Linked DNA regions of Homo sapiens: all the other regions are linked to region 7. Evidence: fine-mapped expression QTL. A gene starts in region 7. Each other region holds a variant in brackets. All regions are shown on one strand. Distances are from middle to middle. Region 1 overlaps DNER (delta/notch like EGF repeat containing). Region 2 has its middle 60 kb from the start of PID1. Region 3 has its middle 67 kb from the start of PID1. Region 4 overlaps DNER (delta/notch like EGF repeat containing). Region 5 overlaps DNER (delta/notch like EGF repeat containing). Region 6 has its middle 80 kb from the start of PID1. Region 7 holds the start of PID1 (phosphotyrosine interaction domain containing 1).

What was found. PIP is the estimated chance that this variant, and not a neighbour inherited with it, causes the effect.
Region 1: its variant is fine-mapped to the expression of PID1 in whole blood (TOPMed, PIP 0.96).
Region 2: its variant is fine-mapped to the expression of PID1 in whole blood (TOPMed, PIP above 0.99).
Region 3: its variant is fine-mapped to the expression of PID1 in whole blood (TOPMed, PIP 0.96).
Region 4: its variant is fine-mapped to the expression of PID1 in whole blood (TOPMed, PIP above 0.99).
Region 5: its variant is fine-mapped to the expression of PID1 in non-classical monocytes (Schmiedel 2018, PIP 0.95).
Region 6: its variant is fine-mapped to the expression of PID1 in whole blood (INTERVAL, PIP above 0.99).

The regions. Positions count from the first base shown.
Region 1 is chr2:229,379,216-229,383,782 of GRCh38, reverse strand. All of the region lies in intron 11 of DNER (delta/notch like EGF repeat containing), which reads left to right. Among named protein-coding and RNA genes, the nearest start is that of PID1, 110 kb to the right of the region's middle. The variant C/T (reference allele first, on the strand shown) is at 1,902.
Region 2 is chr2:229,328,839-229,333,405 of GRCh38, reverse strand. No RefSeq gene overlaps it. Among named protein-coding and RNA genes, the nearest start is that of PID1, 60 kb to the right of the region's middle. RefSeq lists an enhancer at 1,698-2,778. The variant G/A (reference allele first, on the strand shown) is at 2,135.
Region 3 is chr2:229,336,394-229,340,960 of GRCh38, reverse strand. No RefSeq gene overlaps it. Among named protein-coding and RNA genes, the nearest start is that of PID1, 67 kb to the right of the region's middle. The variant T/C (reference allele first, on the strand shown) is at 2,478.
Region 4 is chr2:229,413,875-229,418,441 of GRCh38, reverse strand. It overlaps DNER (delta/notch like EGF repeat containing), which reads left to right. Exons shown (of 13, transcript NM_139072.4): 9 at 212-334. Among named protein-coding and RNA genes, the nearest start is that of PID1, 140 kb to the right of the region's middle. The variant A/G (reference allele first, on the strand shown) is at 1,837.
Region 5 is chr2:229,358,590-229,363,156 of GRCh38, reverse strand. It overlaps DNER (delta/notch like EGF repeat containing), which reads left to right. Exons shown (of 13, transcript NM_139072.4): 13 at 4,506-4,567. Among named protein-coding and RNA genes, the nearest start is that of PID1, 90 kb to the right of the region's middle. The variant C/T (reference allele first, on the strand shown) is at 2,221.
Region 6 is chr2:229,349,323-229,353,889 of GRCh38, reverse strand. No RefSeq gene overlaps it. Among named protein-coding and RNA genes, the nearest start is that of PID1, 80 kb to the right of the region's middle. The variant T/C (reference allele first, on the strand shown) is at 2,753.
Region 7 is chr2:229,268,567-229,273,133 of GRCh38, reverse strand. It overlaps PID1 (phosphotyrosine interaction domain containing 1), which reads left to right and starts at 1,847. Exons shown (of 3, transcript NM_001100818.2): 1 at 1,847-2,120. The coding sequence starts at 2,091.

The sequences.
Region 1 (4,567 bases), 110 kb before region 7:
CTTTTTAGGTCTCTAAGAACTTGCTTTATGAATCTGGATGCTCCTTTATTGGGTGCATATATATTTAAGACAGTTAGCTCTTCTTGTTTCATTGATCCCTTTACCATTATGTAATGCCCTTTTTTGTCTCTTTTGATCTTTGTTGGTTTAAAGTCTGTTTTATTAGAGACTAGAATTGAAATCCCTCCTTTTTTTGCTTTCCATTTGCTTGGTAAATATTCCTCCATCCCTTTATTTTGAGCCTATGTGTGTCTTTGCATGTGAGGTGGGTCTCCTGAATACAGCACACCAATGGGTCTTGACTCTATGCAATTTGCCACTGTGTGTCTTTTAATTGAGGCATTTAGCCCATTTACATTTAAGGTTAGTATTGTTATGTTTGAATTTGCTCCTGTCATTATGATGCTAGCTGGTTATTTTGCCCGTTAGTTGATACAGTTTTTTCATAGTGTCAATTGTCTTTACAATTTGGTATGTTTTTGCAGTGGCTGGTACTGGTTTTTCCTTTCCATATTTAGTGCTTCCTTCAGGAGCTCTTGTAAGGCAGGCCTGGTGGTAACAAAATCTCTTAGCATTTGCTTGTCTGTAAAGGATTTTATTTCTCCTTCACTTACGAAACTTAGGTTGGCTGGATATGAAATTCTGGGTTGAAAATTCTTTTGTTTCAGAATGTTGAATATTGGCCTCCACTCTCTTCTGGCTTGTAGGGTTTCTGCAGAGAGATCTGCCGTTAGTCTGATGGGCTTCCTTTTGTGGGTAACCCGACCTTTCTCTCTGGCTGCCCTTAACATTTTTCCTTCATTTCAATTGTGGTGAATCTGATGATTATGTGTCTTGGGGTTGCTCTTCTCGAGGAGTATCTTTGTGGTGTTCTCTGTATTTTCTGAATTATGTTGGCCTGTCTTGCTAGGTTGGGGAAGTTCTCCCGGATAATATCCTAAAAAGTGTTTTCCAACTTGTTTCCATTCTCCCCGTCACTTTCAAGTACACCAATCAAACAGGTTTGGTCTTTTCACATAGTCCCATATTTTTTGGAGGCGTTGTTCATTCCTTTTCATTCTTTTTTCTCTAATCTTGTCTTCATGCTTTATTTCATTAAGTTGGTCTTCAGTCTCTTATATCCTTTCTTCTGCTTGATCTATTTGGCTATTGATACTTGTGTATGCTTCACAAAATTCTCTTGCTGTATTTTTCAGCTCCATCAGGTCATTTATGTTCTTCTGTAAACTGGTTATTCTAGTTAGCAATTCATCTAACCTTTTTTCAAGTTTCTTAGCTTCCTTGCATTGGGTTAGAACATGCTTCTTTAGCTCAGAGGAGTTTGTTATTACCCACCTTCTGGAACCTACTTCTGTCAATTCGTCAAACTCATTCTCTGTCCAGTTCTGTTCCCTCGCTAGTGAGAAGTTGTGATCCTTTGGAGGAGAAGAGGCATTCTGGTTTTTGGAATTTTTAGCCTTTTTGTGCTGGTTTTTCCTCATCTTCGTGGATTTATCTACCTTTGGTCTTTGATGTTGGTGACCTTTGGATGGGGTTTCTGTGTGGACATCCTTTTTGTTGATGTTGATGCTATTCCTTTCTGTTTGTTAGTTTTCCTTCTAACAGTCAGACCCCTCTGCTGTGGGTCTGCTGGAGTTTGCTGGAGGTCCACTCCAGACCATTTGCCTGGGTATCACCAATGGAGGCTGTGGAACAGCAAAGATGTCTGCCTGTTCCTTCATCTGGAAGCTTCTTCCCAGAGGGTCACCTGCCAGATGCCAGCCGGAGTTCTCCTATATGAGGTGTCTGTTGATCCCTGCTGGGAGGTGTCTCTCTGTCAGGAGGCACCCACTTGAGGAGGCAGCCTGTCCTTTAACAGAGCTCAAGTGCTGTGCTGGGAGATCCACTGCTCTCTTCAGAGC[C/T]GGCAGGCAGGAACATTTAAGTCTGCTGAAGCTGCACCCACAGCTGCCCCTTCCCCCAGGTGCTCTGTCCCAGGGAGATGGGAGTTTTATCTATAAGCTCCTTACTGAGGCTGCTGCTTTTCTTTCAGAAATGCCCTGCACAGAGAGGAGGAATCTAGAGAGGCTGTCTGGTTATAGTGGCTTTGCAGTGCTGCGGTGGGCTCCGTCCAATCCAAACTTCCTGGCGGCTTTGTTTACACTGTGAGGGGAAAACCGCCTACTCAAGCCTCAGTAATGGTGGACGCCCCTCCCCCCACCAAGCTTCAGTGTCCCAGGTCGACTTCAGACTGCTGTGCTGGTAGTGAGAATTTCAAGCCAGTGGATCTTAGTTTGCTGGGCTCCGTGGGGGTGGGATCTGCTGAGCTAGACCACTTGGCTCCCTGGTTGCAGCCACCTTTCCAGGGGAGTGAACGGTTTTGTCTCACTGGTGTTCCAGGAGCCACTGGGGTAGGAAAAAAAAAGTACTCCTGCAGCTAGCTCAGTGTCTGCCCAGATGGCTGCCCAGTTTTGTGCTTGAAACCCAGGGCCCTGGTGACATAGGTACCCGAGGGAATCTCCTGGTCTGTGGATTGTGAAGACCATGGGAAAAGTATAGTATCTAGGCTGGAGTGCACCGTTCCTCACGACACAGTCCCTCATGGCTTCCCTTGGCTAGGGGAGGGAGTTTCTTGACCCCTTGTGTTTCCCGGGTGAGGCGACACCCCATCCTGCTTCTGCTCGCCCTCCATGGGCTGTACCCACTGTCTAACCAGTCTCAATGAGATGAGCCAGCTACCTCAGTTGGAAATGCAGAAATCAGCTGCCTTCTGCATTGATCTTGCTGGGAGCTGCACACCAGAGCTGTTCCTATTCGGCCATTTTGCCAGCCTCCCCTCCAGTTTTCTTTTTTTATTTTATTTTATTTTTTTATTTTTATTTTTTGAGATGGAGTCTTGCTGTGTCCAGGCTGGAGTGCAGTGGTATGATCTCAGCTCACTGCAACCTCTGCCTCCTCGGTTCAAGTGATTCTCCTACCTCAGCTTCCCGAGTAGCTGGGATTACAGGTGTGTGGCACCACTCCTGGCTAATTTTTGTATTTTTAGTAGAGAAGGGGTTTCACTATGTTGGCCAGGATGGTCTCGATCTCTTGACCTCATGATCCACCTGCCTTGGCCTCCCAAAGTGCTGGGATTACAGGTGTGAGTCACCGTGCCTGACTGCAATCGAGTTTTCAATTGTTTTGGAACTGTTAAAGATTCAACTTTGAAAGGTATTGTCTTCTTATTTAAATTAGCTGGGGCAATTTGATCTTTCATAGCCGAAGAGAGCTAACCATGCTGGTTGGGTGAAAGTTTCCTCCCTATTCCAGATTGCTTCTTTTCCTGGGAAAGTTGCATAAGAACTCCCTTCCGCGCTCTGTCACCTGCTCACTCACCTTTTGACAGATAAAGAAAACTTGTCTTCTGTGTGAATTTGGAAGGATGCAAATCAGTACCCACAGTCCTGCCTGCCTGCTTCTGCCTGTCTGTCTGTGTCACTTGGCCTGATCTGTCTGCTCTCTCCACTCCTCTCTATGTCACAAGACCAGGCCCTCACTGGTGGTTCTGGCTGCCTATGGCTGGATAGGGTCATCTCATTCTCAGTGTTTTCTAATGTAGAGGGTGGCCGGTATTAGGAAACTCTCTTGTCCAAATGTGGACCACATTCTCTGACATCAACTTGACCAACTTGACCACATTCTCCAACGTCAATTTGATCAACTTGATAAGAGGCTGAGGATATGATTTAGCTTCTTACCTGCTCACTCACTGTCTTTCTTCTTGGTTCATGCAGCCAAAGTGTGAAGTGTGTAATTGTTATAGGCCTCCCCCTTAGCATTCTCAATTGCTCTCATACAGAATGGGCTTCGAATTAACTTTCCTTGCTAAAGATGGGTGAGAACTACTTTCTTGTTGAAGAGAGAGACAAGGGACTGAAAAGGATTTCAATGGTAAAATTCTAAGGGACTGTAGTTATAGGATGTTAAGTCCAGTCTGGTGGAATCTGCTGGTGGAAAGGATTCCAGACTTGGGTCAGCAGGACCTTGGTTCTTATCCTGGCCAAGGCACTCGTTATGACTGCATTTGCTTGTGCTGAGCCTCAGTTTACTTTTCCAGAAAATGGGATCAGTTTTCATTCTAAAGTTTAGTATGACAAATTGACACACTTTGTGCCTTTAGGGCAGAGTAATATCTACTTATAACTTTAAAATGGGATTCATGAAGATAAATATATAGGAGAGTATAGATGAAAAGTCAGGAACACACAGGATATCATCAAGAAATTTTGAAGTGAAATCCTATCATTGTAAAAAATCTAAAGTTTACTTCTTCTGGTGATGATAATGTAGGCAAAATATGGAATAACAAAAGGATCAAAGTCGACTTCAGATTCAAGCTCCATCATATTCTAACTATGTAACCTGGAAAAACAAATTTACCTCTGGGAGCCTTGTCTTTCTCACTTGATTATAGGAAGGCTTCCCATGCTGGTTGCTGTGAGGATTACATGAGGCAAATGTCCAGATTTCTGCTGTTCAGTAGACACTAAATAAATACTGGTTGATCTTTCTTTTATTTTTTCTGTACTACTATACCTCTTATGCTATG
Region 2 (4,567 bases), 60 kb before region 7:
GCTGTAATTATTATTCATTTGGCCTCCCGCCAATCTATTCTTCTCACCAGCTAGTCTTATCTTTCCTTTCAAAAGTAAAATCCCTTGGGCACTCTATCTTCTTATTTTCCACCTCCCAGTACCCTAGATATGTCTACTAACGTGGGGGTGAGAATGCAGAGAAGAAGAAGCAATGGAGCCTCACATAGCAATACTTTTCCTCCAGTCAATCTGCATTCTAAACTCCTATTCATTCTTTAAAAGGCAGACAGACATCACCTTCTTTGGGTGACCTCTTTTGGTCTTCCAGAGAGAGCCCCTTCCTTCCTTTTCTTTTTCTATTTTTTTTTAGAATCAGAGTCTCACTCTGTCACCAAGGCTGGAGGTGGAGTGGAGTGGTGCCATCATAGCTCATTGCAGCCTCCAATTCCTGGTCTCAAGCGATCCTCTCACCTCAGCCTCCCGAGTAGCTGGGACTACACGTGTGTGCCACCACACCTGCCTAATTATTTTTAGAGATGGGGTCTTGCCATGTTGCCCAGGCTTGTCTGAAATTCCTGGCCTCAAGCAATCCTCTCTCCTTGGCCTCCTGAGTTGCTGGGATTATAGGCGTAACTCCTTTTTAATGAACCATATCTGCACATCTTTCTCCTACTGCGCATGTTACGTGGAGTTGAGATTATTTGCTTGCCTTTTTATCAGCAACGCTAAACTGTGAACACCTTGAGGTGGAACATCTATGTTTTTTAGCACAAGGGCAGCATTTGGCACACAGAAGGAGGTCCATACATTTGGTTGAATGGAATTGAATGAGACCCTTAGTTACTTAGGGGAAAGGCAGAGGTGCTGTGAATTTGGTGGGGTGTGTGGCTACAGAGGATGGCATCACATAGAACTATGGGGTTGTCTATAGGGGAAGGTCACATGGAATTGCTTGGCACTTGGGATAGAGATGTTTCTAACTGCAGCAATTATGCTCTGAAGGGCTCCTCTCCCTGAACACGAGATTAATGAGTGCTATTGACAGCAAATATGATAATTATCTAATGATATTCATAAGTGTCTGAAATACTTGGCACTGTGCCTGTGACAACTTGGGAGCCATTTTCCATTTACATCTTAAAGTGAATCTAACTCATTTAAAAATAATAACAAACCGACCACCGTTGATAAAAACCATAGGTTAGATAAGCATTTAGTCTCCTCTACTGCCCCTCTGCAATTATGCATATGGAGGCTTCCAATCCTAAGCAGAGGCAAAGCCTTCCCCCGCTGACTGAATTTAGTCTCTAAGAAGACTGGCAATGGGAGCAAACTAAGGCCTCTTTAGAACCTGCATTGTTAGAGAGCCAAGCTTTTAATTAAAATACAACTGGGTACAAACCTGTACAGAAGCCATACTTAAGGGAGACACAAGTTTTGCAACCTCACCCCAGCAGTCTTACGTTGGGAGCAGGTGGTGCTGGAGGGCAGACACATTGGAGGTGCTGGAAGAAGGTGGTCGTGACTGGTGGGGCAGGTAGGGGTCACCATTCCACGTTGAGGTCCAGGATGATAGAAGTGCTTCAGGGGCAAGGAGAGGTCCTTCACTAAGGTAGACCATGCACTCAGATGTTGCCCACGGAGAAGGTAGTATGGGGTCAACATCTGCCAAAGGACTATCTAGCTGGAGTCTCAGAAAGACAGGAAAGTGAGTTCTCCAGAAGAAGAGGGTTAGGCCACAGTTCTTACGGATTCAGGTGCAAAAGATGTGATTTACCCCTCGATACTTAAGTACAAAAACGTCAGGTGTTTTCCTGAATCAAATTTAGCCTGACTTAGGTCTTAGCCTTCTCTTTTTGATAATGTACAAAATGCCAGAACTTACACAATCTTGAAATGTTGATAAAGAGCCTGGGGTCTCTGGTGGCCACTGAGCTACTCAGGAAATAGGCAGCAAGGCTCATCAGAAGATGTGGGAAGAGAGGGACCAGGTGATTTGCCCAGAGTCTCACAGCAGGTAGGTGGGCCAAGACTCACACACGGCACTTTTGTCTCTTACCAGCCCAGGCCATTTGTCTTCTCTCCTCCTCCTTGTGCCAAATCCATTCAACAGAATAGGTGCTCTCAGTGAGTCTCTAGTGGAGAAGTTTTCAAGTAGCCACACAGCAATTAC[G/A]CAGTGCCAGCAATTGTCATATCAGCCCTAAGAAAGGTTTTGAAAGCTGCAGTGAAAGGACTCCACGTCTCCAAGTCTCGTGCTCAGAGAGTTCAGAAACCAAATAGGAAGTGAAACCACAGGACCATCTGCAAGAGAAAAAAATAAAGAAATGAGGAAGCCAGGAGGGGGAAGCATGGAAATGAACCCTGACCAGGGTACTGATGACAGTTAAATAAGGGCAAGACTTGATGAACGATGGGAAGTCTTGGTTGTATTAAGAACCAAAGGTTACTTCAACAAGCATTTACGGAGTGACTTTCCTGTGCCAAATCCTATGCGAGGTGCTGAGGATATAAAGATTAATTAGACCTCCAGCTCATTGCTGAGTCCAGAGACTATAGTATTTCACAGATTCAATCACAGATATCTGTACAAGGCACAGAACCCATTAGGAAGAAAGAGTGATTTCATAGCTCATGGGGTGAATGAAGGCATAGCTCATATGCCAGCTGTCTGCTGTCCTTTGAAATAAATAAAACATTTTATTTATTTCAAAGGACAGCTGGAAATATTTTATTTACTTATTTTTATTTAATGTACTTCATCAAAAATAATTAACTCCAGGCCCCTAGCTCATGATTAGGGAACAGCCAATGGACTCTCCAAAATTTCTGGCAACTTCCAGGGTCTCACAGGCTCACAGTTCCTTCTGACTCTGAGAACCCAACAGAGGTCAGACTCACAAGACCATGTGTCTCACTTTCTACAGCTTTTCTTTCCTGTGCTCCATTCTGACCCAGATATGGATCTCATCCTTTTTCTACAAAAAGCTTTCACACAAGCTGGAGTTGGATTAAAAAATAATAGTATGGCGAGGCACGGTGGCTCACGCCTGTAATCTCAGCACTTTGGGAGGCTAAGGCAGGCAATCACTTGATATCAGGAGCTTGAGAGAAGCCTGGCCAACATGGTGAAACCCCATCTCTACTAAAAATACAAAAATTGCCAGGCACAGTGGTGCGTGCCTGTAATCCCAGCTACTTGGGAGGCTGAGGCAGGAGAATCACTTGAATCTGGGAGACAGTGGTTGCAGTGAGCTGAGATCGCACCACTGCACTCCAGCCTGGGCAACAGAATGAGACTTTGTCTCAAAAAAAAAAAAAAAAGAAAAGAAAAAAAACACCCAAAAAAGTATGGAGATGAACACTAAAGAATAGGAATAAATCACCCCCAGTCAGAATTGGCATTGGCTGTTAAAAGTTTCATGTGACTACTTTACCAGCTGAAAATCAGCTCTTCACACAAGGCACATGTAGGTCAACTGAATTTAATGAAAATATGTGAACATGGCTTTTCCACTTAAATGACTGAAAATCTAATATGACTTAGTCCTATCTTTAAAAGTATTTCAGCCTTCTCACCATGGGAATTCTTCACTGGCCAACTTGCCCAGAAAACTGCTACCTTCCTCCATCGCTGCTTGATCATCTTTCCTCCAGAGCCTCTTTACCAATCCATGACCAGCATTTTTCCAAAATTCATTTTAATTAGGTACAATTTCTATACAATAAGATAAGATGCACCCATTTTAAGAGTGCAGTTTGATGAGGTTTGACAAAAGTATAAACCTATTTAACCAACACAATCAGTATCTAGAACATAGCCGCCATCCAAAAAGCTTCTTTACGTCCATTTGTGGTATCTTTCCCACCTCTGCTTCCAGGCATGCATTGATCTGTGTTTGGCTGTCTACTTAAGTCTATGTATTTTATGACATACAAATGGGATCATACAGTATGTACTCTTTTGTGTCTATGAATCACTTTATGAGTTTTAACAAAGCAGTTGCCCATGATTGCTCCTTTTTATTATTTAGTAGCATTCCATTGAACAAATATACTACAATTTGTTTATCCATTCACCTGCTGATGGACATTTGAGCCTTTCCCCTTTTTGATGATTACAAACGATGCTATGAACATATTTGTACAAGTCTTTGCATGGAAATACGTCCTTATTTCTCTTGAGTGAATACCTAGCAGTAAAACTATTGAGTTGTATAGCTAAGTGTGTATTTAACTTTATAAGAAATTGTCAAACTGATTTCCAAATAAGTTGTTCAATTTTACATTTCCTCAAGCGATGCACAGCATTTCCAAATACTCTACGTCCTCATCAAAATTGGGTATTGTCAGTGTTTTTAATTGGGTATGTCAGATACCATACTTATCACCCACTTGGGTGCACAACTATAGTGTCTCATTATTATTTTAATTTGACTAATGATGTTGAGCATCTTTTCCAGTGTTTCTTGGCCATTTATATATATTCTTCATGAAATGTCTGATCAAATCTTTGCCCATTTAAAAAATTGGGTTGTCTTTTTATTATTAATTTATAGCATTTCTTTATATACTCTGAACACCTGGCCTTTGTCATTTATCTGTTTTG
Region 3 (4,567 bases), 68 kb before region 7:
TGGTACTCCTGACATTGTGGTCTTTCCACGCTTTCTGTCTCCCCAGATGTCAGACATGTCTTTTTGTCTTGCTGCAGGCACCATCCTCTCCAGCAGGCCTTCCTGCCTTCCTAAATACCTTCTTTGAGGTTTGTGAACTGAGATTTTTGAAGGTAGAGTTTCATCTTCAATTGCCTAGCATAGGGTCCAGAATGCATCAGAACGTAACAGGAGCTCAAGAAATGTTTGGTGAGTGAATCAGTTATGTAGCGAGTGGAGCAGGGGTGAATTTGTATCCATGGGAGCTGGGCCCCTGTCCCACTGGCCCTCCAGGCTGGCCTGGTGCTGTTCCTGCTGCTCCTGGTGACCATATGGTGTCCTCGCCACAGAGGTCTTGTGGGTGTACTGCTGCCACATGAGTCATGGTGGCCTCTGAGAGCTGCACTGGGAGCTCAGGCAGCCCCATGAAATGGGCTTTTTGCTCCAGGAAGGATTTTGTGGCTTCCAAAGTTCAGAGGGGACTTCAGTGAAGAAAAGTAATTTCATAGTCTTAACTTCAGAAGCAACCAATGCCTTCAAGAGTTTTTCTGGGCTGTAATCGATCATGTTTGGAGCAAGACCACAGGGCCGTCTTGGCAAAGGCCATCTGGAACTCAGGGAGTGGGAAAGCAAGGGCTAATTGGTTGTGTGTGTGTCTGGTGGGAGGCTGGAATCTCTGACACTCATGGAGAATGGGGGTGGCAAGGCCGCTGGCTGGCTCCCTGGGCTGGGAGTCTGGGACACCAGGCAGGAGGAAGCCAGCCTCCTCTCTGCTTCCTCCACATGTGCTTTTGCGAAAAGCCCCGTCATCACCTTACACTCCCCTAGCCCACATGTTGCTTGTCCTGGATTTGGGGTCTGTTTGAATGGGAGCTGGTCTTGGTTAAATGGTGCAAAGTCGGGCCCACTTCGGCTTCCCGTGGATACCACTTACAGGTGTGAAACCAGAGAGAAACAGTGATCAAATAGGAAAGTGTGTGCTGGAAAGGACCCTCTGTTTACGGAACTGTCTGGTTAAAATATAAGGACATTAGCACTTTGACAAACACGGTGGCTCACAGCAATGTTTCCTGGTAATAAGTTCGTTGTTTGTGAGTCACGATGGATTTGGAAATTCTTGAGCTCTGGGAGGTCTGGCCCATGGAATGACTCCCTTAGACAATTTTGCATGGCCAGCAGCTGCTGGCTTCCAGTGGAGGCCACCTGTCAGCATTTCACCTGGCACCCTCACCTCCCAGTTCCAGGAAGAAAACAACTGGCTCCCAGGGCTAGTCTCTCTCTCTCTCTCTCTCTTTTTTTTTTCGGGGTAGGGGAGGGGTGGTGGAGAGACAGGGTCTCCCTCTGTAACCCAGGCTGGAGTGTAGTGGCATGATCTCAGCTCACTGCATCCTCGACCTCCCAGGCTCAAATGATCCTCCTGCCTCAGCCTCCCAAGTAGCTGGGACCACAGGCACACGCCACCACGCCTGGCTATTTTTTTGTATTTGTGGTAGAGACGGGATTTTGCCATGTTGCTTAGGCTGGTTTCAAACTCCTGAGCTCAGGAGATCCACCCACCTGGGCCTCCCAAAGTGCTGGGATTACAGGTGTGAGTCACCATGCCTGGCTGTCTTTCTCTTTTCATCATTTCAGTGTTTGCCATTCTAACTGGTTTACAAATATTTTGTTTCTTGCTGGTTTGGTGCATTTTTTGAAAGATATAGGGTCTTGCTATGTTGCCCAGGCTGAGGTGCTGTGAGTATTCACAGGCACAAACATACTGCACTATAGCCTCAAATTCCTGGGCTCAAGCAATCCTCCTGCTTCAGCCTCCCAAGTGGCTGGGACCACAGGTATGCAACACTGTACCCAGCTTGGTTGCATTTTGAATCCTGAGAGACTTCAGCAAAAGTAGGCAGAGGGCTTCTCAGTGTCCCGGTCACCAGGTCTAGGAGACAAGAAGTTGGGGGGAAGAAGGGGGGTTCCAGTACCAACCTGTAGTCACTTTCAGAAAACGCAGAGATGCTCATGGCAGGAAATTGGTGTTTATGAGAAAGGACTTTCTCCTGCTGGGAGCATTTAAGCTTTTTTCAGGGTCTGGTCAGAGGCTCAACTGTTTGCCCTGTGTATACATCTGCAGAACCAGATGAAAAGAGGCTTTGGCAAGCCGTAAACTACATGCAGCAGAGCATCGTGAACCACTAATATCTACCACCTGCTTCACTCACTTTTCCATAAATTACACCGTGTTTCTGTCTTTGGAGAACAGTCACAAGTGTCAGGCCCAGGACCCTGTTGATTCGAAAGATGCCATCCACCTGGTTCCTGAATCCTATCTCAGACTGGGCAAATTTGGATGGAGGGTTACCCATCAGTGTGCAGAGCTGGGCACCTTGACCTTGAAGTGCTGCCTGGGCCCCCTTGCAGTCAAAGACTTCCCCTAAAGCCTTGCTCTCAAACTTGCCTGCATCAGGGAGGGC[T/C]CAGACAAAATTCAGGAGGCCTAGTCACATTTTAATTGAGATAAACAATGAGTAACTCTTAAGTATGTCTCAGGCAATATTTGGGATGTTCTTAGAGTAAAAAATGTATTAGTTATCTGAAATTCAAATTTAATTGAGTCTTCTATACTTTTATTTGCGAAATCTGGCAACCCTGGCTCAACACTGCAATCACATGGGGGAATTTATAAAAAAGACTGATATCTAGGTCCTACCCCCAAAACCTCTAATTTAATTGGTGTTGATTGGACCTGAACACTGGGGACTTTAACAGCTTCTCTACTGATTTTAATATGCAGAAAGGTTTGACCACTGCAGAACTAAAATCGTGATTTATAAACCATTCTCAGCTCTGCAAAGCTTCACAAGCTTTTTCATCTTAACAGTCCAGACTACCTTATTCACCTGCTGTAATTTATCAGCTGTCTAAGGTTAGTCAACCACCCTGAGCCTCAGTTTTCTCACCTGTAGATAAGGGTGTGGCACCAAGTTAATGTCTGATTCTCAATGCTACGTTTACACTGCTCTTAAGTGCAGAGAGGCATAAGCTGTATTCCAGAGAGTCTAAAGCAACTGGCCACAGGCAAGAAAATATTTTGGAGCTTTCATGATTTAATCAAAAAATTTCTGTGAATTTTATGTTTTATTTTTGATTACACATGTGTGTTTTAATATGAAAATAAGGAATTGATTTGCCTCCACGGAATTCAAGTAAAACTGGCCACAAAGGAAGATGAACTCTGTTTATCCCGTGATGTCATGGGCCTCCTAGTTGACCAGCAAGATCTCTTGCAGGAATCATACTTTGGCTGGAGAATCAGAAAAGTTATGCTCCTGTCTGCTGTGGAGTTTGGTTCAATTATTTCATTCTGAGACATTCTGAACTACCTTTCCTCACTTGGAAGAGTACAGAGCTTGGTGTGAGGCCCAGGTAAGCTTGCTAATTATGTCCCTCTCTCAGCTACAGAGAAAGAAGATGAATATGGGTGAGCTTAAAAATGGCTCCAAACTTAGAAACATCCCCCCTCTCAGTAAGGGGCAAAGTGAATAAATCATGGCATTTTGCCTATGGAATTCTGTGCATACAGTTAAAAGAATGAGTTACATTTTTGGCATTGACCTGGAAGGATGCTCATTCTCTATGGTTAGTAAAGAACACAGATTATAGAATAATAGAACCTGACATAATATAGCCTTAAATATAATCAGAGAGATGGGTTGTGAGTGGGTTGGTGATAGAGGGAGACTGTTACATTTTCTAGACCCAAATTTATTAGCCTCATTGTATTAGGTTGGCACAAAAGTAATTGTGTTTTTTGCCATTACTGTTGTGCCAACCTAATAGCATCATCTGCATTATCTTGGAGTTGGTTTAAAAAATGCAGAATTTGACCAGGTGTGGTGGCTCACGCCTGTAATCCCAGCACTTTGGGAGGCTGAGGTGGGTGGATCACCTAAGGTCAGGAGTTTGAGACCAGCCTGACCAATATAGTTGAAACCCTGTCTCTACTAAAAATACAAAAATTACCTGGGCATGGTGTCGTGCACCTGTAGTCCCAGCTACTTGGGAGACTGAAAAGGGAGAATTGCTTGAATCTGGGAGGCGGAGGTTGCAGTGAGCCGAGATCGCACCACTGCACTCCAGCCTGAGTGACAGAGCAAGACTCAGTCTCAAAAAATAAAAAATATAAATAAATAAATAAATAAATAAATAAATAAATAAATAAATAATGCAGAATTTCAGGCCTCACCCCCAGACCTTCTGCTTGGAATCCACAGTATAACAAGATTCTCAGGTGTGTTGAATACACATTACATGTTGAGAGAGGCATTGTTTTAGACAAGCCTGGGTTGACTGAAACATTAAAATCACCATGTATTACTTTCATAACATGTGAATGAAATTTTTAAAAATTATCTGAAAATGTAAGTGTTTATAAATAGTAATTATCTATATAATTTTTGCTGTAACTGTTACTTTAATCCAAGCAAGTTTCTACTGCCTGTGAAATATCTCTGCAGAGAACCAGAGAGCAAGTTGGGCCTGAATTGCGTCTGCTGAACACATTCTA
Region 4 (4,567 bases), 150 kb before region 7:
ATGAAAAAGTGTGATAAGAACAGGCGCTTTCTTCATAGCCTTCCCCCAAATCCACCTTTCAACTTTACCCCAAGAGATCTAGCTCCTGAAATCCCATCTGTTTATACCATACTTTCTAATGAATACCCCCAACTGCCTTCCTTGCAGGCTGGTCCCGCGTGGGTTGTAAATGGGATGCATTTGACAGTGGGCCTTTCTCTCTGTCCCTCAGGTTACCATGGCCTCTACTGTGAGGAGGAATATAATGAGTGCCTCTCCGCTCCATGCCTGAATGCAGCCACCTGCAGGGACCTCGTTAATGGCTATGAGTGTGTGTGCCTGGCAGAATACAAAGGTGAGAGGCCGCCTGGCCTTCCTGTGCCAGAATGGCTCTAAATGACGTCATGTATTTCTCAGTGTAAATGCATAAACCTCTAATTGGACCATGAATTGTTCAGAATAACAATCAAATGCTGAAGCTGGCATGATTAATCGGTCCAAGGAGACCAATTTGCAAGTCTCTGGTTTCTTCCTGATAGATTGAGAAACAACCCCCTTTCCTGTCCTGTTCTTTGTGGATCCTCGCTTTCTTTTTTATTGAATGTGTAAAAAGCTGAAAACAAAAAGTAATATTAAGATGGACTGTCAGACATAGGTTAGAGACCATGGCTGTGAAAACTGTGGAAGAGGAAGGATGCCGTCCTATAAAGCTTCTTATGCAGAGATAGAATGCTGTGCTTTCTTGGGGAGGAGGCAGGCGGAGTCCCATGTATCAGCAAGTAAGTTAATGCTTATTAAAAACAGGCGACATTGACAGAGTGTTTCCAATGTGTGGACCCCGTTCTAACCCCTAATGTGCATAGCTCACTAAATCCCCCCGAGAACCCTATGAGGTGGACAGTAATGCTCTTCCCCTATAAGCCTGGTCAGCGTGGTTCCTAAAGCCCTTTCCCAGCATCTTCACTGGCCTCTGGCCACGTTTTGTGGATGGCAAGGCTTCCTGGAGCCCAGATATCCTCAGACGGCCCTGTTCCAGGAGAACCTATTTATCAGCTGTTGCACACATTTCTCTAAGCCATAACTACGGGGCCGGGTTTAGATTTTGGAATGCGTTTGTGGGCTCTATTTATAGCCATTTCATTCAACCGCTTGCTCCTATTGCTGCTTGCTTGATGCCATCCACCTGGCTGGAGACCTTGCATTGCCCTCACCGTTGCTTCTCTTTGGATGAACCTACCTTTATTTAGTAACCTTTTTGGCAAGTCTCATGGCCTTGTAGGCTACACTGAAAACTTGATTAAGCTCCTGGATAAGAGGGCTGAAGCTGGGCCAGGTCTTGACTTTGTGTTCCACAGATCTGATGCTTCTGTTGGAGTATGACGTTCGGTTAGAACCAAACTCCACTAACATCTACCAGGACACAACAGCAGATGTGCTGGCTTCATTCTCAGGCTTCTCAGTTCTGAGTCTATCTATCTATTACCTTTCTCTCTACATATCTTCAACCTCCTTCTTTCCCCTTGCTCCTTTCCATGTGTATAAATATTTTCATGGATTTCTTACTCTGAACAAATGAAGATTCTAGGAAGATGGCAGCTCACATTGACATTCAATATCTCTGATCCCTCCTGACTCTCTGCTAGGGATGGCTCAATAAGGTAGATGACCCTGAATGGGGTCATCTGAAGATTTGGGGTCTCAAGAAAGGGTATGTGTGCTGGGAGCCTTTGCTTAACCACAAGAACAGGGGATGAGGGCTCCAGAGAGAACTGATGACTCAATGAACAGATTAGTCCAAAAAAATCCTTCAGCTTATAGAGAGGAAGTGCATGCTGTAATTGTGCTGCGTCTGACCCT[A/G]GGAGGCAGAGGGGTGTACTGATCTCATGGCTACGGGCTGCTGTCTAAGGAAATTGCACAGTAGGCTGAGCTGGCCCCCCCATTTTTTGTGGCCTTGAGAACACCAAACTGGGAGGCCTCTCTCTGCCTCATGCCTTAGTACACAGGGCCCCATTGGCTGCCCATCCATCCCTGAAGGGGAATGTGTTATGTTGTCTGTCTCTGCCAAGATTTCCACCCACTAGCCTGGCCAGTACACTAGCCCACGCCAGCAACTCAGAGAGGGAGAAAAGTTTTGGGAAATAAAAACAAAAATTGCAACAACAGCTCTAAACACTCAAGAAAGGAAGTGAAGAAAGTAATGTACACTACTCAAAATTGAATTTGGATCTGAATAAAAAGGAGGAACTAGTGCATGAGAGAATCAAAATATGAGGAAGTGGAAACCACGAGTGAAAAGACAGGAAACATGGAGAAAAGATTTGAGAGATCTGCTTCTGCCTGAGCGATGGGTGCTCCAGAAGAAGGAGCATGTGGAAATAGAAGCAGAATTAACTAACTCCTAGAAGGAGGTGTCTGTGAGGTGAAGAAAGTCTTATTTTCAAATAGAATGGGCTCACAGGGCAGTAATGGGATTAATGAAGGAGATGATACACAATTTGAGATTTCCTGGTAAAATTTGTAACTGCAAGGATAAAGAGAATTTTTTACAAGATTCTTCGAAGGGATCACAGGTTACATACAGAAGAAAGAGAATCAAATCGGCATTGTACTGCCCCTCTCTATCATGAGGTAAAGAATAGCAGAGCAGCGTTTCAGACTTTTAAATGAAAAGGACTAGGAGTTTGTTGTTTATATTTGAGGGCAAAAGAAAGACATTGCCATACATTCAAGGATACAGAAAATATAGCACCCTATACCCTAAGATAAGTACCTTAATAAGCATCGCCACCAAATAGGAACTAAATCAAAACAAAGATATCCAGATAGGGGAAGATGGAGAATGGAAGGAAGAGATGTATGCCTTTAAATGCAGGCATAAATCTAAATATTTGATATTTATGTGATTGTGAATGGTAATATAATGGTGAAGGAAAGTCTCTTGAAAAAAGTAGATCCGCCTTCTGTATCAGCTATCTATTGCTGCATAACAAATCAGTACCCGGTACTGGCTTAAACAACATGCTTTTATTACCTAACAGTTTCCTAGGTCCAGGTGTGGCTTAGTCAATTCCCAGCTCAGGGGCTCACAAGGGTGAAAGCCAGGTATTGACTGACTGAGCTCTCATCTGAGGCTTGAATAGTGAGAAATCAGCTTCCAAGTCCCCTTAGGTTATTGGCAGAACTTATATCCTCGTGGCTGTAGGATTTGTGACAGCTTGCTCTTTGAAAGCTAGCAACTATGACAGAGACCCCACTGCTTCCAGTCTTGAACTTCCGGGAAGGCCTGGACTTTTTTTTTTTGTGATGGAGTTTCACTCTCATTGCCCAGGCTGGAGTGCAATGGTGTGATCTCGGCTCACACCAACCTCCACCTCCTGGGTTCAAGCGATTCTCCTGCCTCAGCCTCCTGAGTAGCTGGGATTACAGGCATTCACCACCATGCCCAGCTGATTTTGGATTTTTAGTAGAGACAAAGTTTCTCCATGTTGGTCAGGCTGGTCTTGAACTCCCGACCTCAGGTGATCCACCTGTCTTGGCCTCCCGAAGTGCTGGGATTGCAGACATGAGCCACTGCACCCAGCCTGGACCCTCTTAAAGGTCTCACCTGGTTAGGCCAGGCCCACCTGGGAGGAACTCAAAGTCAACTGATTAGGGACCTTAATTGCATCTTCAAAATGTCTTAACTGCCATTTGCTCTTGGTTGGAAGCTCACACTCAAAGGGAGGGAATTACACAAGGGTGTGACTCCCTAGGGGTCACTCTAGGCTGTGTCCACCACTCTTGCTCTTAAGGAAAAATTTCAACAAGTAAAGTGGTTTCATATTATTTAAAACAAAGCCATGTGTTGAAGGGGGTGAGGATAGGAAAGACTGAAAGGCATACAAGTGTGTTAAACATTTCACTCCTGGCTTGGTGTGGTGGCTCGCACCTGTAATCCCAACACTTTGGGAAGCTGCAGTGGGCAGATCACCTGAAGTCAGGAGTTCAAGACCAGACAGTGAAATCCCGTCTCTACTAAAAATACGAAAATTAGCCAGGTGTGGTGGCGGGTGCCTGTAATCTCAGCTACTCAGGAGGCTGAGGCACGGGAACTGCTTGAACCTGGGAGGTAGACGTTGCAGTGAGCTGAGATCACACCACTGCACTCCAGCCTGGGTGACAAATCCAATGGGCAGATAAAGTGTTTATTTAATTTTAGTATATTTATAAAGACTTTTAGGTTTAGGTTTAAATAAGGCTGCTGAAAACAGGGAGGTAAACCCTAGTAATGTAGCAGTAAATGGTAGAACTTCTAAACTAAGAGTGGTGGGGACATGGGGAGGGTAGGTAGAAGGAATTAAAGGAGAGACAGGAGGATCTAATCATGCTCTTCCACCCAGAGGAAGAGTGAGGGGAAGTGAGAGGCCACATGATCCTGTGCTTTTCTCTCCGTGGGGGGATGGACATTTTCCCCCTTTTGGAAATATTTTTGCCAATATATATTTACATATCGTATGTCTGTATACATTCAGGAAACTGTCAGATGGATGGGTTTAAATTCCTAACTAGTACTTACCTGGAGTTAGAACTTAGATAGGTAGTATTTTAG
Region 5 (4,567 bases), 90 kb before region 7:
ATCTGCAACATGCTTGCTTTGCTTGTACTCAGGCAGGGAAGAGCTTGTAACTGACCAGCAGGAGCAAAGCCAGGGTTCTCCAAGTTCTGACACTGAGGTCCCACTCAGTTGACTGCTCTACGAGCTAGAAGTGCCTGATCACGGGAAAAAGACAATGGAGGACATGTTCAGTTTTTTTCCCCAATAGCTCAAAACCTTCCAATTTTGGCCTTTCTCAAGATCTGACATTCTTTCTGCGGCATTGTTTTAGTGGTTGACTTTCAGAGGACCATGAACTAGCGGCTCTTTGACCTGCCTTATAACTGGTTACAGTATCTTTTGTTTCTTTGAAGAAATAGACACACAAGACTTGTCACCAAATAGGATGTTTGAGATGTCCGTGCTAACTGATATTACTGGTGCTGTCATTTCTGTTAGTGCCTCTGTGATGGCCAACACTTACTGAAAGCTTCCCGTGGGCCAGACACTGTGCTAAATCATTCACAAATAACTCATTGGCAAGCATCTCACAAGAATGTAGGGGACCATGTATCATTAGTCCCCCATTATAGGCAAAAGAAATTTGGGCTTAGTGAGATAATACAATTTACACAAGGGTCACAGAGTTTGTGAGAAAACCAGGACTTGTAAGTGAGATTTGTAAGCCAGAGTTTGTTAATGAGAAGGAGGATGTGCTGATTTGAAGGTGATGCCTTTCAATGCAGAAGTACATAGCCTCTTGTCAGGCACAGGTTAAGTGAGAGCTTCAGTTTATGGGGTCGTCACATGCATGAAGGTTGCAACGAAGTGTTCAGCATCTAGGCTTGGAAGCCAGAAAGCTCCACCTCCCACCAGGTGTGACCTTAGGAAAATTATTCCTAAGTGTCTGTTTCCTCATCTGTAATACAGGATAAATGAGATGTACTCACTTCACGAGGTTGTTATGATGATGAGATGAGATGATCAATCAGTGAAAACAAGACAATGGAATGTGATGTTGAGTGAGCACCAAGGACAATGGATGCATCACCCCTCGAGGGGCTAGGAAGGAGCCGCAGATGGAGCCACCACATTAGGGTATTTGAGCTATTTTTTCAGGAGGAGGGGGAGTGTGTCAACTCCTTCCCATCTTTTAAAGATCTGGCTTCCTCATGGACCATCAGCAGACATTTCCCAAGTGTCATGGTCTGTGGTCATGTCGTGGGCCATGAGCTACTTCAGGTGGGAACATGTTACTATGAACACTAAGTGTTCCACCCAGCCCGCCCCACCCAGCACAGAAGAAACATTTTCTTATTAATGTTTTAACTTGTAGGAATTTTTTTTTTTTACTTAACAAGAATGCTGAGTAAAACATTACACAGACTATCGATTGAAAAAAGTCAGTCTCAATACAGTATTCAGAGTATTTTCTCAATTTTGTTAAAATATGTAATATAATTATTATATATAATACTTTCAGAGGGGCTTCATACATATTTGTAAAATGAATGGAAGGGATGTGGGATTGAGGGATGGGCAGACTGAAGAATAATGCACAAAACATTGACACGTCCTTTGGAGAGCAGCACTAAGGGCGATTCTTGTGGTCTTCATCAGGGACCTGTAAAATGTTTTAGACTTTGCAGGCCATATTGTCCTGACTACTCAACTCAGCCTTTGTTGTGCAAAAGCAGCCAGAGGAAGTGTGAATAGGCTTGACTATGTTCAACTAAGACTTTATTTGAAAAACAGGCATCAGGCTGGAATTGGCCTGTGGACTATAGTTTGCTAACCCCTAGTCTATTTTATAATTTTCTCTAGCTTCCAATTTTATTTTGGTTTTTTTTTACATTTAAAATGTACCTTTATGATAAAAAGTAGTAGTTATTTTTAAAATGAACACTTGCATGAAAATGCCTGCAATAAAATAAACAGCCTCTGACATTGATTTAGTGCCTGAGATATTAAAAAAAAAAACACTGTTAGTCTTTTAAATGTAGACATGAATGCACATTCGTTTACCAACAAGTGTAAGCCTGCTACTGTGAGAGGTGTAGGAGATTCAAACAAAGTCTTTTCATTGTACTGTGTGTTTTAAAACTGTGGTGTTTCTATAAACGACGTCATTTTAGCTTCCATATGGTAGATACAGCATTTCAGGTGGAAACCTCCAAAATTCTCCTAAGGAATTTGGACAAAGTTCTCAGCAGCTAGTAAGTTGAAATGCAGGGATTCCAGCTCCAAGCCTGCCTGCTCTCT[C/T]TTCTGGTGCTGGGGCTATTAGTCTTATTTTAACCACCTTCGTAACTAGCATTATACTTTATGACCCATACTTGTTTGGAGTTAATCCCATTAGGACCGGGCCACACAGCTCAGTTAACCAGTGTGGACACAGAGTGGTGCTCCTTGCTCTTCAGTTGACCTTGAACATGCATAGGTGGCCATGTGGCTCACTCTTGAGAGGCATCAGCCCTTGCCTTGTCATACTCAGTGGATCTGTGGCTCACGCCTGTAATCTCAGCACTTTGGGAGGCCGAGGCGGGTGGATCACGAGGTCAGGAGATTGAGACCATCCTGGCTAACACAGTGAAACCCCGTCTCTACTAAAAATACAAAAAATTAGCTGGGCGTGGTGGCGGGCGCCTGTAGTCCCAGCTACTCGGGAAGCTGAGGCAGGAGAATGGCACGAACATAGGAGGTGGAGCTTGCCGCGTGAGCCGAGACCACGCCACTGCACTCCAGCCTGGGCAACAGTGCGAGACTCTGTCTCAAAAATAAAAAATAAAAAAAAGGATGTTTTAAAGATATATACAATTGGGTTTTTCCTTTCAGCCAACCAATCGAATAATTAGTTAGTTAATATAATTTGTTGGCCCTCAAGTCAAAGCTCTCTATATCCTACTATGTTAGATATGGAGAGCTCTTCACTGGGTTGCTGGATATTTTTGGTTAAATTATTATTAGTGGTGGTGTATCTAGGTATTTTATGAGAAATAAATTGTCAAAATGTTTGCATCTTAAAGCAGCCTAGGAAATTGTCAGACTTGGGAGAAAGTGTAAGACCCAACAGGCCTGTTGACACTTTTACTCTGTTGACACTTTTCCTATCCTTAGATTATGCAGGCCTCACTCAATTTAGGTGAACAAACTGCAGGCTAGAGCCTGACCCACATCTATGTGAGCACAATGGTGGACCTTCAGTGAGGCTTCACATTTTAGAAAGTATTTATTGAAGTCTTTTGTCATATTGCAGTAATAGCTGTGGGTTTTTCTGAGGGTAGAATGCTTTAACTCTTTAACCCCGTGTTTTGCCTGGTGCCTGTCTGGCATAGCATATGCCTTTGTGCTCTTCAAGGCCAGTAAAATTTGAGAGGATTGGAATACAAGATTGATGACTGTTTAAAATGAAAGATCACATGAAGAACGCACTGTTTTCTCATTTCCCGCTTGATTCTACTTCCCATCTCCATACATGAGAAGACAGACTTTCAACATATCAAAGGAAAAAATAGGAAAAGAGGAGAGTTGGGACAGGAGCCATGGCAAATAAGCCCCTTTAATTCCTAGGGACCCCATCCTAGGAACCTTGTAAAATTTAAGGTTCTTTTAAAATGTCTTTTTAAAGAGCCCTGGTGGAATTGAAACAATTAAAAAATGTTGTCCAGACAAAGGAGGAGGGAGGATGGGTTAGTGTGGAAGATCGTTTGAATCCTGTTGCACTCCAGGGCTTGTAGGGAAGGTGAGGTCTTGAATGGGAAGAGACCACCCAGAAGTTGAATTGGCTTTATTTTAATAATTGCCACCTTACGACAGGTTTGACAGGAAGTCCTGAAATTGGATTTTGACTCCCTTGGCTTCTGAGAGGCAGTCCTGCTGTCGAGGCAATTTTGATACATACAAATCTGTTGGGACAATGGCTTTGTGCTCTGAGGAAAACATTGGCTTCTGTGTCCATAAGGTTGGGAGGTGATAGGTGGGTGGGATTCAATGGTGAGTTCTGGCATAGTTTGTGGACAGACACCTCTGTATCTGAAGTCATTTCCCACCTCTGCCCTTTTGTGTTGGGATCTCAGATGACCTTAAACCTTCACAGCTTATCCCCTGAAAATCCCACAGGAAAGGCTGTCTGTCCATGGCCCGGGGAAGACTGCCCTGGTGTTCTATATTCCAGGCACTGGAGTAGATATAAAATAAACTCACCTCTCCAAATATTTATGGGCCTCAGAAGAAAAAGACAAATCAATACACATTTTCTTAAAATCTATTGTGGAGCTGTCATGCTTGACTGCTTTGCCAAGATTTAACCTGCAAGCTCCAACTTTGAGCTCTACATTTTGTGAAATATGTTTTTTTGCCTCGAACACCAAAGACTAATGTTTATACACATTCAGTGTTAATATTAGGATGTCTAAAGTTTCTATGCTTGCTATAGAATATGTTTTTACAGTTTCATTTAATTCATGCATATAAATTATTCTCATCACTTGCTTTAATTAAACTTGAGATCTAGTATTTATCTAACCAGAGTCCTTTCTCTCTGATTTCAGGTTTGGAAAGAAATCCCGGCCTGCAATGTATGATGTGAGCCCCATCGCCTATGAAGATTACA
Region 6 (4,567 bases), 81 kb before region 7:
ATTTCTCAGACTTTCCTTGTTTTCATGACCTTGAGGAGGACTATGTATTTTCTAAGATGTTCCTCTATATAGATTTTTATGACGTTTGACCCATGATCAGACTGTAGTTACACGTTTTGGGGAGGACAACCACAGAGATAAAGTGCCATGTTCATCATGTCTTATCAAGGTTACATACTAACAACATGATTTATTACTGTGGATGCTGACCTTAATCACCTGGCTGAAGCATTGGTCAGGCTTCTCCACTGTAAAATTACCTTTTCCCTCTTCTCTCCAGACTGTACTCTCTGGAAGGAAGTCACTATGTGTAGCCCACACTTAGGGAGCGGGGAGTTATGCTTCTCCACTTCCTTAAGGATAAAGTATCTACTTCAATTATTTGGGATTCTGCATGAGAAATTTGTTTATTCTCCCACGTTTATTTATTCAATAACTTATTTATACTAGTATGGACTAACGGACATTTTTGTTATTGTTTGGAGTATAATTTAACACTTTTTTTTTTTTGCTCAAAATTTTCCATCTTTGGCCATTGAGAGCTTTTCTAGTCGGCACCTTTGACATACCTTCATCATTGTGTATCTCTGTGTGTGTGTACATGTGCCTGTGTGTGTGTATGTACCTGTGCCTGTGTGTGCGTGCATTTTAGCACTTTCTTGCTTTCTGGCAATACAGGATGCTCCAGGCTCATCTTGTGTGTTTCCTGCTTCAGACTTAGAATCAGCCATTTTTTTCCAGGGAGATTGGTTCCTTTCATTGCAGTGAGAGTGGTTTATAACAAATGAGCATTTGAAATTGATTTGACAATAGCCAACTGTCTTACTCCATTTGTGTGGCTATAACAAAATGCCTGAGGCCAGATAATTTATAAAGAACAGAAATGTATTTCTCACAGTGCCGGAGGCTAGAAGTCCAAAACCAAGATACCAGCAGGTTTGGTGTCTGGTGAGGACCTGGTGTCCACTTCTAAGATGATGCATTGTCGCCGCATCCTCTGGAGGGGAGAAACACTGTGTCCTCACATGGTGGAAGGGACAGGGGGTGAAAAGTGAGGAGTGAAAGTCCTCCTTCAAGCCCTTTCAGGTGGGCACCTAATCCCATTCATGAGGGCACAGCCCTCATGACTCAGTTCTAAAGGCCACACCTCTTAATAGTGTTGCATTGGGGGTTAAATTTTAACCTGAATTTTGGAAGCAACAAAGAAAGACATTCAAACCATACCATACACACTCACTTGGAAGCCCAATTAAGTGAAATATTTTCTACCCCACAGAGTTTTATTCTTCTCCTTAGTAGACTTGTATTACAAAAATAAATCGTATTCAATTATTGTTATATTTTGACTTCCATTAATAAAAAATGTGTGGAATGTTATCTCCTCTCATGTTATACAAGTATCTATATCATATGCTCAGTTTTATATCTTGGCCAGCACAAGACTAAAATGTTTAATATCTGGTCTTTTACAGACAAGGTTGGCTGACCTCTGCTTGAGAGCAACATTCTGTAGTGTAAGTGAGGTAACATACTTAAGGACCAGCATAGTGATGGCACATGGTAGGCATGTGGTATGGGGGAACACATGTCTCCATTCTCCCTTGAGAAGGCGAACTCTTTCAGGACGACTCTGTCTTATTCAGCTGTATAACTCTAGTGCTTGGCATGTTGGTTGACCTTTAGCAAACCTTTATTAAATGTTTCCATTGATTGAATAGCAAAATGCATGATGATTTAATGCAGAAGGAGATAGAAGGTTGTATGTGAGAGAACAATGAAAGATGACATGGTTGAAATGGAAGGCAAAGGCACACATTAATATGGAACCAGTGGGAATGCCTTCTAGAGTTTTACACATTTGTTTGCAAAATATCTGCAAGATTTCCATCTTATGTATCTGTTGACCTGGCCTGGCTATTTGAGAACCTGGACTGGTCAATAAGATATATTATTTTTTCAATCATTCAATTTATCTCAATCCCTTACAAAATGCAATACTTAGAAGGCTTTTATAGGCTTTATTGAGGGCCTTGGGGGAGAGTCACAGAGAGGTTCATATTGCATGGAGAAGGTGACCTTCCACCATATGCAGATTCTGCTTCCTCTCTTGTTCTTCTGTTGTTCTCATCTCCCTCTCCAGAACCATAAGAAAATTAATCTCTTGTTTTGTTTTGTGCAGAGCAGTCGTTCTCACCCTCACAATCCTTAGGAAAGAATCTTCTATCTCAAATGCACCTTAAGTATATTTCCAACAAAATATTGGTCTATTCTTGAAATGACTCAAGTAAAAGCTCCCAAGAAAATCAAACTCTCTATATGTCATTTCATTTAATATAATTATTAGAATGCCTCTGGCTGCAGGTCACTGACAGCAAACCCAATACATACACTGACTTAAAATATAAGAAAATCTTGTAACTGGTAGTCCAGAAGCGAGGTAAGCTTCAGGAACAGCTTGATCCAGAAGCTCTTATTCCATTTATTTGCAGTTTCCTTGGTCATGCTCTCCTCTAGGTGATGGCTTCATCATCAGGCTGCTTCCCTTGTGATGGCAGAATGGCTATGACAATTTCTACCTTCACATACTCAGGCTACCCTATATTTTTGTGTACCCACTCATTCCACTCTACTCCATTTTCTCTTATTCTGCATTATTATTTTCAATCATACTTGCTAGTATCTATCTGCCATGTCATTGAGTTACTTTTTCAGTCATTTTTTTTCTGTTTTCCCAGTAGTACTTTAGCTCCAC[T/C]TTGTGATCACTACTGTATCACCAGTGCTAGGAACAGTGCTTGGCACATAGTAGCTGCTTAAGAAACATTTGCTGAATGAATGAATGTCAGGACATTCAGAGGATGAACTAGAGATTGCCTCAGAGGCTCCCTCTTAGCAGCTAGGGGATTTCTTCCTCAAATATTTAGTAACTCTTATTGGCCCAAACTGGGTCATGTACACATGTTGGAATTATCCCTCATGGCCAGCTAAATGCTACACCCTCACTAACAAAGGCCTGGATTCCTGAATCAATCACTGCTGAGGGGGCATAGGATTATCCTGAGGCTGGGAAAGGGGTCATTGGCCCTAGAAATATATGGAACGTAGAGTGAGAGGTGGGGCAAGAGCAGTACGGATGCAAAACTAAAGGGCAGTTGAGATGGGGAAGGGGAGTGGTCCTAGGAGGCAACCACGCATGTCTTCTCCAACTACACATAGATATAGGAGTGAGCAGTGTGGGTGGAGAAGGTGGAGAGGCACTGAGCTGGGAGTTAACAAATTTAGATTTTTATCTTAGCTCTTTCTTGAATAAGCTGACAGAAACTTGGTGAGTCATTCACCTCTCCCAGCCTATGCTTTGTCATTTATATTTTATACATATTTTTATTTTTTGAGGACAGAGTCTCACTTTGTTGCCCAGGCTCGAGTTTAGTGGTGTGATCTTGGCTCACTGCAACCTCCACCTCCTGGGTTCCAGTGATTCTCGTGCCTTACAGGCTTGCACCATCATGCCCAGCTAATTTTTGTATTTTTAGCAGAAATGGAGTTTCACCATGTCCGGCCAGGCTGGTCTCCAATTCCTCGCCTGAAGCGATCTGCCTGCTGTGGCCTCCCAAAGTGCTGGGATTACAGGTGTAAACCACCATGCCCGGCCTGTCATTTTTAATACTGAGCAATTAAACTATGGTTATAACTTGGCTTTCAGCCCTAGATGAGCCACAGATGTGCTTTTGTTTGTCCTACACCATATGTTTAAATGTGTAAACCAAAATTAATAATTAGGATCTCTCTGTCTCTCTCACACACACACACACACACACATACACACTCCACTCACACAAATCAGTTTTCTGGCTTACCTTGAAAACTCAGAAATGTGATTGCACCATCCATATGGAGACAGGAGAAAGGAAAAAAACAGGCAGACAGTTAAGACAGGTCACTGGTAGAATTGTTTTAAACAGAGAAATAGGCTGAAAAATCAACCTACAGCTACACAGATAAGGGGACAAGCCCCAACATAGAAACACCTTTGTTCATTGTATAATCAGCGGACTCCCAGGAAAGTTTCCTCCCCTTTTGTGGACATGTACCTGGTGGCTCCGTGGGAACTTTCTTGGCGGGGGAGGCTTGCCTGAGACATGTCCACAGCTGTACAGATAAGGGCAGTTACACAGGCCACTACATAGACAAGGACAATTTCTTATAAAAACATTTATATTCAACTGTAAAATGGCAACCCTCTCCACTGCAGAGAGCTTTCCTCTTTTGCTTATTAAACTTTCACTCCAACCTCACCCTTGGTGTCCGTGCTCCTTAATTTTCTTGGTTGTGAGACAAAGAACTCAACACCTCAGACAATAAGATTGCTTCATTGACCCTAGATGGCTTCATTATTACCACATGGCAGCAAGTGGCTGAAATGGAAATGAAACTGCCCCTTTTAGATAGTTGGGCACAAACCCCACCACTCCCTATTGTCTCACTGACACTAAAGGTGAATGTCAGTTACTACTTATAATATTTTTTGCCCAGTTATTTTTGTTTTAGTTTTGCTTTATTTTCATTTTGT
Region 7 (4,567 bases):
GAACTGGAGAAGGAGCTGAGAAGGTTCAGGTGGTTATCAGGCAGGAGTGGGAGGGTCCTGTGGATATCCAGGGAGACAGAGACAAGCTCTTCAGAGGCAGCTCTGTGGCTTTGCCAGAGGCTCCTAGAGGCACTGAGGGTCCTGGGCTTGCCAAGGCTGGTGGCACCAACATAGCAACCGCAGGGTCCAGAAGGATCTGCCTGGAATCCTGGATCTGAATCGCCATTGTAACTCCCCACAGTGTGACTCTGTGAACCCTGTGCTCCCCAAGCCTTGGGAGATAGGGGCTTCTGTCCCACGGAGAGTTGCTGCGAGGGTCCGATGAGCTGAGGGTTAGATTCTGGAGTGGTTCCATATCTGGAAATCATTGTAGTCATGCAGAACAAGGAAAATGGACAGATCCTCCTTCCAGACATGGAGTGTGGATTTTGACATTGCATGAGTAGCTCACGGCCCAAGCTGTGCAGCTGTCTCAGTATGAAATGCCTCTCTTTCACACCCCTCTGCTCTCAGGACCCTGCCTTGTAGGAGCCTAGGGCTCCCCACAAACATTGTGTTCTCTCTGCTCCTCTCTTTGGTCATTCTATGTCCTGAGTTCTTCCCACCATGTTCTCCTCTCCCACTCTTCATCAGCTCGAGAATCAGCTTAGTATCCCTGACTTGCCAAGTGCCTTTAACCCCCAGCCCTAGACGGATGCTCTTTCCACTGGGTTTCCATGGTCAGTTAGAGGCGCAGGGCCACATCTCCTGCCCTGAAGTCATCTGACTGTGCACTCTCTAAGCCACTCACTGGCTGTGTGACCTGGACAAGTGACCTAAACCTTATAAGCCTCATTTGTTTGATCCACATGGTGAAAATATTAATAGTTATTTTGCCGAGTTGTCAAGAGAATGGGAAGGGCTGGCCTGTTTAGGACAGGAAGTCATCTCATGGTGGCCGGCACTAGCCGGGGAGCCTCCAGGCCTGCGAGCCCAGAGCGGCTTTCCCTTGGGTTCTGAGAGCCTCCTGCTGCACCTGGCAGATCTCAGGATGAGTTAGTGATTCGGGAGTCTGCATGGCCCTCCTCACCCCTGTATAGGTTAGGAGTCGAGTCCTCTCCCCATCATGAAGCATGGCCTCTTCGTGGCCAATCCCTCTCATCTCTCAGGTCTTACTCCAGGCATTCCCCAGGGCCCTTGTCTAAGAAGCTCTCCTCTCCCCTTCTTCCCACATCTGCCCTGTTTTATCACCACCCGATATAGCACCGGCTTGTTGATGTGTTTGCTCAGTCACGACTCTCTCTCCAAAGCAGAAGGTAAGCTCCAGAGAGAAGGAACATTCTCTTGTCTTCTATTCTGCGTCGCTGCATCCTCAGAACCCAGCATAGGGGCTGGAGCCTAATAGATGCTCAGTTAACTGGAGTGGGAAGAATGAATGGAAGTGTCTCCCTAGCACAGCGCCAGGCACAGCACAGGCACTTCAGAGATGCCTGTTATATGGAAACCCGGGACCCCCGGGGCTACGGTTTCCTTATTTTAGGAATTTCCCCCACCCCCGCCACCCCCGACATCCCCGCTGCCCCCACCACCCCCGGCTCCAGGCCCTTCCCCCCTCAGCCAGTCTGTCCCTTTTCCCAGACCCCAACCCAATGGGGGCTTCCTGCAGGGAAGGGCCGGCTGTTCTAGCCTCCCCATTCACCCCTCACTAGGATTTAGAGTCGGCCGCGCTGCACTCCCGCCCCGCGCGGCCCCTGGGCGCCCGCCCCGGGCATGCTCAGAGCGCGCAGGTCCGGGCGGCGGCGGCGGGGGAGGAGGGAGCGGCCGCCCCCGCCGCCGCCGCGCGCTCGCCGGGCCCGGGCGGAGCTGCGCAGTCCTCTCGCAGCTGCGCCAGGACAGCCGGCGCGCGGCCGTGCCCACAAGTTGCCGGCAGCTGAGCGCCGCGCCTCCTCCTGCTCGCAGCCCCCTACGCCCACCCGGCGGCGGTGGCCAGCGCCAGGACGCACATCCCGCGGACACCGACCCCAGATGTAAAGCGGGACCCCAGCCCCTCGCCCCCCGGCGCGATCGACAGTCTCGCCAGCGTCTCCTCTGCCAAAACCCAGGGCTGGAAGATGTGGCAGCCGGCCACGGAGCGCCTGCAGGTAAGGGGCACCCGGGAGCCGGGGGCCAGCCTGGAGGAGGAGGTGCCCGGGCAGAGGAACCTAGTTTTTGCTTCTGCCTACTTTAGGGGATTTGCCCAAAACCATCTTGTAAGACGCATCGATGGCAACATGATGCTGTCGGTTTACCCAGCGCCAGGAACCCGGCAGGGGTATGGGGATGATGAAATTGATAAACGCACGGGTTCAGGCGTTACAACTTTTGGCTTGGAGGTGCTTGTGTGCGTGTTGGTTGGTACATATAAGGTTGGACTTTCTGACTGGCAATTTAGATTGCATTCCACTGACACAATGCAGTGGTCTGGGGTTAGGATTTTTGAAGCCAGATTTTTTTTTTTTTTTTTTTTTTTTTGTGGTCACCAGGAAAGACAGAACAAGTGATATGTGAAAGCATCCATTTGCCAATATAATGTGGAAATATCAAGCTTGGTTTGGCTTGGTCATGGTATGCTACTTATTTTATTTTTCCCTATTCATTGGTTCTCTCCCTTTATCTTCCTTAAACCCAAGCTCCTTCAGATATTTAAGAATCAAAAGTAGGTTCAGCCAGGAATATTTATGTCCTGGGTTATCCCATCAAAAGTTTTTTACTGCTGTCTCCTGAAATGCCAGACTGCCTTGAATTGGATTCTGGAAGCTGGGGATTTGCGGGAGGCGATTGAAGAGAAAGAGGGACCTTTCCCAGAAGAACTCCTTCAGTGACACGTTGGGCCTTGGGATTGCCCTGGTTGCAAGGTTTGAGGACTGCCTTTTGCTGGCAAATATTGTCAAGAGTCACGGCAGCTACTCTGCCAGATAAAATCCACTGAATCCTGCAGTTAAACTTTTGGCAAGCTAGGAGCCACATTGTTTCGTAGTAAACTTTGAAGACGTGTTTAACTGGTAAAATACAGCACCATTGGAGGCTGAGTGCATCTGAAGACTTAGGACAATGAGGCCAGGCCCTGGCTAGGTTGGAGGCTTCTCAATGAACATTTACAGCCCCAAGCACAGTTTCTCAGATGCAGGGAGAGGCTAACCTTTGTCTAGGAGTCCTCATACAGAGGAACAACCCGCAGAGGGCATTGCATTTAGCAGAAACAGATGCCCCACAGCTCCTTTCCAAAGCTCCCTGGGCCATGATTTGCGGGGAGTGTGTTCAATTTATCAGAGCCTGAGACACCAGACCAGTTCCCCAGGGTCTCAAGTAGAATAAACAAGAAAACCTGCATTTAGCCTTGCAGATGAGGAGGTGGATGACCAACCTCCTAACCCCCTCCTTGTCTTACTAAGAGAATATCAGCACTGGGCTCTGAATGACTGATAGAAGGTGATGTAAATATATTTTGGCAGTGGCACCAGATACCAGTGGCGCATTTGAAGTTCTCCTTCGGTTAAAGGCGTAACTTCTATTCCAAAGGAGCAGAATGATTGAGGGGAGCTGGCAGGTTTCCTGTTCAAGTGCAGAGGGTAGCTTTTGGAAGTCCTTAGAGAGATGTGACCAAAATTCCTTGAGGTGGCTTTTATGGCCTGATGATCTGTACCTCTGAAGAGTTTGTAGATTTTTGACTATTCAAGTTCTTCCTACCGGCCTGTTTCACTTAGGGAATCCTGTGCGCTCTGGAGCATGTGACCCTTGGCAGGTGGGCGCTCTCGCTTGCCTTCCCATAGAGATTGCTCCTCACTAGAAATGTCTCCCCCTTATTTTGTGAAATGTGCACGTGTGCATTTTGGCGTGAGCCTGGTTTATTGCAGTTGGTGTTTGCAATGCGTTTATTTTATTTCAAGGTGTCATGTTGAAAGAACCTGTTTTTAGGCTTTTGAAAGCTCATATAAACAGGGCTTATCACCAATAAGACCGAGTCACTGTTGGAAGGTCCTTACCAACAGGGGGCTCAACTTCATGCTGCCCAAATTTCGATGAGTCTCTTTTGAAAGTACATACATCTCAAGCCTTGAGATTAGAGAAGTGAGACAAATGCGGAAAAATTTTTTTATATCCGTGGCTTCTTCCCAAAGAGTATTGCTTGACTCTCCTTGAAAACACATAATTTATATGTTTTTACTTTTGCCTCTGAGAGAGCTGTTGAGGATGAGATGGTGAGTGAGCTGCTTATCATATTTTATTTACATTCCTTGTGGTTATCTTTGTCACAATCTCTGTTTGCTGTCTGGGGTTTTTTCCTTTTCTTTTCCTTTCACCGTGATATAGAAACATGCCTGTCCGATTCCTCAGTGAGAAGCCACTTTGCCACTCCCAGGCTCTGTGGCCACAGAGATAGCAGTGGATATCATGCTGGATAGGAAACTTGAGAATGAGTTCTGCTCTTTAATGATGTCTGAGCTCCATGTGCCTTTCACAAATCTTTATAAACCTTCTCATTCGACCTCATTAATTTTTTTCTCATTTATCTTTAATACAAACATTCTAATTTAGATGAGCCAGAGTG